Linked DNA regions of Homo sapiens: region 2 is linked to region 1. A link means that fine-mapping ties the variant in region 1 to the expression of a gene that starts in the linked region. Tissue or cell type: whole blood. Region 1 holds a variant in brackets; the other region holds the start of a gene. All regions are shown on one strand. Distances are between the middles of the regions.

Region 1 (2,660 bases):
TTCCCAGAGGTTAGCTATGCAGCCCACCTAGATGAGTCTCTTCAAGAATGGGAAATCAAGGGGTGACAGGGAGTAAAAGGGTTATCATCTTACTGCAAAGCCACAAGATCAGGGCAGGGCTTTAGGATGTTCTGGATGCTTTTTAATAATTATGCTTCCCATCATAACTGGGGAGAAAGGGAAGTCAGGGTTCTAGGGGTTATTCGTCCCAGGAAATAGAAGTGAAATTGTCTTTATTAAGTGAAAACTTTCCCCTTTGCCCTGCAATGTAGCTGGGCATTCAAACGGAGGGCAAACCGATGATCTAAACCAACCACTTGGAAAAACCCAATGGGGACATTGTAACCAGAGGGTCCTGGAGGTGGGGTTGATGGGTTTCCTTATCCCCAAAGTCACTCCTGTTTTGTTTTGTTTTTCTTTGGGGGTTTTGTTTATTTTTGGGGCTGGCAATCCAAAATAGAAAATCTGATCCTTTGAGGCTCTAAAGGAAAATCAGCTGCCTCTACCAACCACCCTCTATCAGCAGTGGCCCAGGAAGGAGGTCAAGCATCTTCGGCCGATATTTAAACATGGGCAGCTTCCTTCAGGATGATCACCGAGGCTCCCGTGACTTTGAACTCCCTACTCTCCAGAATCCAGGGGCTATAGCGATGGGGACTGCGGAATTACGAGGGCTGGCTGTTTTACACCGGTCACATTTTCTATTGGCAGTGACTGATTCATGGGAAAGGGCTTTGAAGGAACTACTTCAGTGCACACACAAGGTACGAACCTCTCAGGCCTTTCGAAGAACTTTCATAATTCATGAAAGCCCAGTTCTGAAGATTCACGTATCCATCTGGAGACCTACAGGAAGAAAGTGATTGGGTTCCTCTGGTTCTTGCCTGCTTCACTGTGGATGGGAAGAGGTGACAACCTCAGTCTCCCTTTGGGACCTGTCCAAGGGTAGGCAACCACCTTCACCTTCACACAGATTGAGGAGACACTGGACTTTTTACCCATTTTCTTTAATCTTCAATATTAATATTGTGTTTACATTGATGAGAACAAGAGTTAATGCCCTACCCTCTGCTGGGCTGTTTGTATTGAGTTGCAATGTGACCAGCGAAAGCTGCATTTAATAAATGAAAGTACAGACTGTTTCTTCCCCATTCCCCTCCCACTCTTGCAGGAAGCTACTGAGACACACCTTGACATAGAGAGCTAAATTGCAGTGGATAAACAGCAACTTCACACTTTCTGTTCCCCCATTCTATTTTTCTCATCATTTGAACTTTAGCCTTTTTTTTCCC[C/A]TTTTGCCTGAAGTTAGATCCCACTCTGTCTCTAACTCAAACCATCTTCAAGTTTTCCATTCCGCATCTTTCTCAACACTGGAGCCAGATGTTGTCTTCTACCAGATGTGGGCTAGGAGGGTAAATCCTGGTAATCAATTGTAAAGGGAACATCCCATCCTTGGGCCTGGTAGTCATGTGGGACCCTATAGCAATCCGGTTTGTGAGATCACTCACGATGTTACATGCTCAAGTGGATGTTACACGGAAATTTATACAAGAATTAGGAAAATTACCATTAGGACTAATTTTTGCATAGATCTAGCTAGGCTTATGTATGTATGTAAATATATATGTAGACAGAGCATACAAGTATATAGCCTATATACAAAGCATTTATAAATAAAAAGTGACATATATGTATAAAGCAGAACAAAAATTTTGAAAGTACATGTCAAAGTCCAATTTGTTCAGTGGTGTGCCAGGCCAGCTTCTACATGCTCACAAGGCCTTTTTGGGCATATTTCCAGTTTCCACGTTCAGTGATTCCTCTGTCCCCATCCCCAAGAGCTAGTTGTTAAATATTTACCAGCAGCATATCATTGACTTTCTCTCTCCCCTGTGTACACACAAGCACACACAGACAGATACACAGATACAGAGGCACTCACTAATTTCTCCTCCTTCCCTAGAGAGGACCACTGTTAGGAGATGTACACATACCGATACAGGTTTTGAATTAATCATTACCAGCTACTTGAGCCAAGTGAAAACCTGATGGTAGCACTGGTTCCTCAATGTTAAAAATCCATTTTTAATTCCCTAAAGCCTTTTTATTTTTAAAATTTTGCTTGGCCCCTGACTCATGCCCAGCCACCTTGCTTTCACTTGCATTTTTATGGGCGTAGCTGGTGACCATGTAATTTGTCATCTAAATCGGGTCACTTCTGAGAATGAAAGGTGCTAATTATTTTTACACAATAGGCATAAACTAGAAGATGATGTACCTTCACGTACAGTGAATTTATTAAGGCCAGAAACTGATACTTCACACCAACAGGAGAAAATCCTATTTCCCCAAAGACAGGTGCCTTACACTGTAAGCCAATCTCACTGAAGGCTGGAGCTCAGACATTGGCGGATGCCCAACTTCAACAGAGAGGCTGCCAACCCAATGGAGGCTGAGGTCCGCAGAGCCAGCAGCCTGCATTCCCAGAACTTACACTGGGAGCAGCAGTTCACTGCCAGCCCCAGCTTATGTGTGGGGAGCTGTAGCCATTTGGGCAGAGGTAATTGCAAAAGATGTTGATTTCTTTGCATCAATTCCCTGGGGGGTAAAACAGGCCTTTAAATGTGTCACACAGATGTTTTCATGCTTAAATAAGCCAA
Region 2 (2,684 bases), 650 kb before region 1:
GGAAAAAGAAATGTAGTTTCCTCAGAGGAAGAGGAAGCCTTGGACAGGATTCTTGGATACCGATCCCAGAAAGATGCCGTCAGAGCCCTTCGGCGGGGCTCCTCACAGACTCCGGCTGCCCCACAGCATGCCCACCTCCGAGAGAAGCTGCGACCCGAGGCGGGGAAACTTCCTACTTCTCACGACGGCTGTTTTGTGCAATTTGGGGAGCAGGCTGCATGGTCCTGCAAGCCTGCGAGCCTCTCTACCACGGCAGCTGCGGGCCCGTCCCGCTTCCCTTCCCCCTTTTTCCGCGAGGCACGCCAAGCCCGAGGCGGCCGGGAGCCGCCGGGGTTGGGGGAAGAAGGGCGGGGAGCTCCCAGCTTGCACCCTTTCATCCCGACCCGGCCCGGGATCCCGGCTCCGGGTGTTGCTTCCGCCTGCCTGCCAGCCAGCGAGCTGAAGAAGCACCGGGGCGGAGTCTCGCCGGGGGGCGGAGCCTGTGCGGGGGCGAACTCTCGGTCCGCGCGGCTGCGGCGCTTGCCATTGGCCGGCCGCTCGGTCACGGGGTCGGGGGCGGGCGCCGACGCGGGCGCCGGCCCCGCCCCCGCTCGGAACCCAGCCCCGGCTCGCGGTCCCCCCCGGCTGCACAGACATGACACAGACACACAGTCACTGCAGCTGCTGAGCGAGTCCGGCGCTCTGGGCACGCGGAGGCGGCGGGGCCAGCCCGGAGCCCGGACCCCAGCGCCCGCCCCTGCCGGTTCCCGCGCGGCGGCCCACTCCTGGCCGGGCGCGGGAGGCGGGGATCGCGCGCCGGCTCCGGCCAGCGGCGCCCGGCTGCCCGCGGCGGCTGCAGCGGCCGCCCAGCTCCGAGCGCCGGGCGCTCCGGGAAGCCGGCGCATCTCGGAGGCGGCGGCGGCGGCCAAGGCCGGCGAGCGCTCCCGGCGGCGGGGGCCGCCCGCCTCGGCTCCCCGCACCCACCGCGCCGCGATCCACTCGCCGCGCCTCCGCTCCCGTGACCTTCCCGGGGCGCCTCCCCTAGCCCCGCGCCCCCGGCCCCGCGCCCCAGGCCGGGGCGAGGCCTTTTCCGGCGCTTCTTTCCCGCGGAGCCGCGGGCGGGCGGCGCAGGCCCTGGGGGAGAGCGCGCCGCGGCCGGTTGCAGCCCCCCCCGCGCCGCCGCGTTCGGCGCCCGGCCCGGCCAGTCTGCTCCTGCCCCGCCGCCGCGCCGGAGCCCGGGCGCCCGAAGCTGGGGGCGCGGCCGCGCTCGTCTCGCCGGGCTGTTCGCGGGCAGGCCCTGCCCTGAAGGGACGAATCGGCTTGGAGCGCGGGAGGTGGAGTCGGCCCCGGCGGTCGCTCCCTGGACCCAACCCGAGGCTGACCCAGGCCCCTGCCCATGCGGGGCGCCCCTGGCTCGGAAGAGTCCCCCGGGCCGGGAGCAGCTCCAGGCAGCGGCCCCGGAGGAAGAGGAAGAAGGGACAGTGCTCAGCTTGGGGGACCCGGACCCTCGCCGCGGCATTTGGAGCCGGGGGCAGTCCCGAACTCTGTGCTTGGCACCGCCGCTCCGAGTAGGGCAGCGCCTGCCGGGACCCTGACCCGGACCCCCTGCGCCTCGTAGGCGGCGGCGCCGCCGCGCCACCCTGTTCTTCCGTGTCTCCCTCTGCCTGGCGGCAGTCACGGCCAAGGTAAGAGCCCCGGAGCGCGAGAGTCGCCGCGGGGGCGCCGTGGTGTGTAGCGCCGGACAAGTTCTCCGAACCTGTGGCTGGTACCCCCTGTACTCGGGATGCCGGCGGGGAGGCCGGGCACACCCTCTGCTGCCCCGGCCGGGAGCCCTGGAGAGGCTGGAGGTGGAAGCCCCCAGTCTCCGAAGTCCCCAGGACCCCCTCAGGGCCTGCTCGGCTTCTGGGCACACAGGCTGCTGGCAGGGAGCGAGCCAGGAGGAGTTTCTGGTTAACACCACGAGGGCATGTGACCGATACCCGCACCCCCGGCCCTCTTGTTAGCGGTGAGCACCTGTGGTTCGCGGAGCCTGCCGTGTTTGGAGAGGGCCCTGTTGGGCGGTACGCAACTACCTTTCGTGGTGTGATGCTGTGAATAACTTTTCTTGTTCCTTCTTGCAGACAGTCCTGCGCAATTTGGGGGCGAGCAGCCACAGCTTGCGAGTCCCTCTTTAGGACAGAGTGGTTGGTTGGCATTGCTATCTGTAGGGGGGAAGCCCAGCCAGCATGTCCTTCCTGTTAGTCAAAGCTGCTTGTGAGGAGTGATCAGTGTATAGCTATCCAGACATTCTTGTAAATGTCACTGCTTTTGAAGTTTTGGAGTGAGGACTCCAAAGTTTGTGTATCCTCAAGTTATTTTGTTCATTGCCTTATCCTCTTTTAAATGTTCCTCTTAAGGAACCTCAGTTGTACAAGCCTGTCCTTGCCTGTTTGAAATTTATTAAACCTGTGAGCTTCCCCCAGAACAATCTGATTTTAAATGGGTCACTTCGGAGGGAACAGATTGTCTCTTGCACACTGAATCCATCCCTTGGGTGACCCTGTTTAATGGGGTTGGACTCTTTTTTTTTTTTTTTTTCGTCTCTGTGCTGATGTGCCTCGGTTGAGCAGGTTTCTGCTGAATTCAGAATCCGTGAATTTTGTCACTCAGTCCATTAAAATGATCTCCTGAGGGAGCAAAATAGCAGCTTACATTTTTCGTGAATG

The links. PIP is the estimated chance that this variant, and not a neighbour inherited with it, causes the effect.
Region 2: it holds the start of LARGE1, and the variant in region 1 is fine-mapped to the expression of LARGE1 in whole blood (TOPMed, PIP above 0.99).

Annotation. Positions count from the first base shown.
Region 1 is chr22:33,271,567-33,274,226 of GRCh38, reverse strand. It overlaps LARGE1 (LARGE xylosyl- and glucuronyltransferase 1), which reads left to right. Exons shown (of 15, transcript NM_133642.5): 15 at 1-1,718. Among named protein-coding and RNA genes, the nearest start is that of LARGE1-AS2, 110 kb to the right of the region's middle. The variant C/A (reference allele first, on the strand shown) is at 1,293.
Region 2 is chr22:33,918,975-33,921,658 of GRCh38, reverse strand. LARGE1 (LARGE xylosyl- and glucuronyltransferase 1) reads left to right here and starts at 1,183. Exons shown (of 15, transcript NM_133642.5): 1 at 1,183-1,664. LARGE1-AS1 (LARGE1 antisense RNA 1) reads right to left here and starts at 434. Exons shown (of 2, transcript XR_001755630.2): 1 at 136-434. RefSeq lists silencers at 316-815, 1,136-1,285, 1,556-1,655.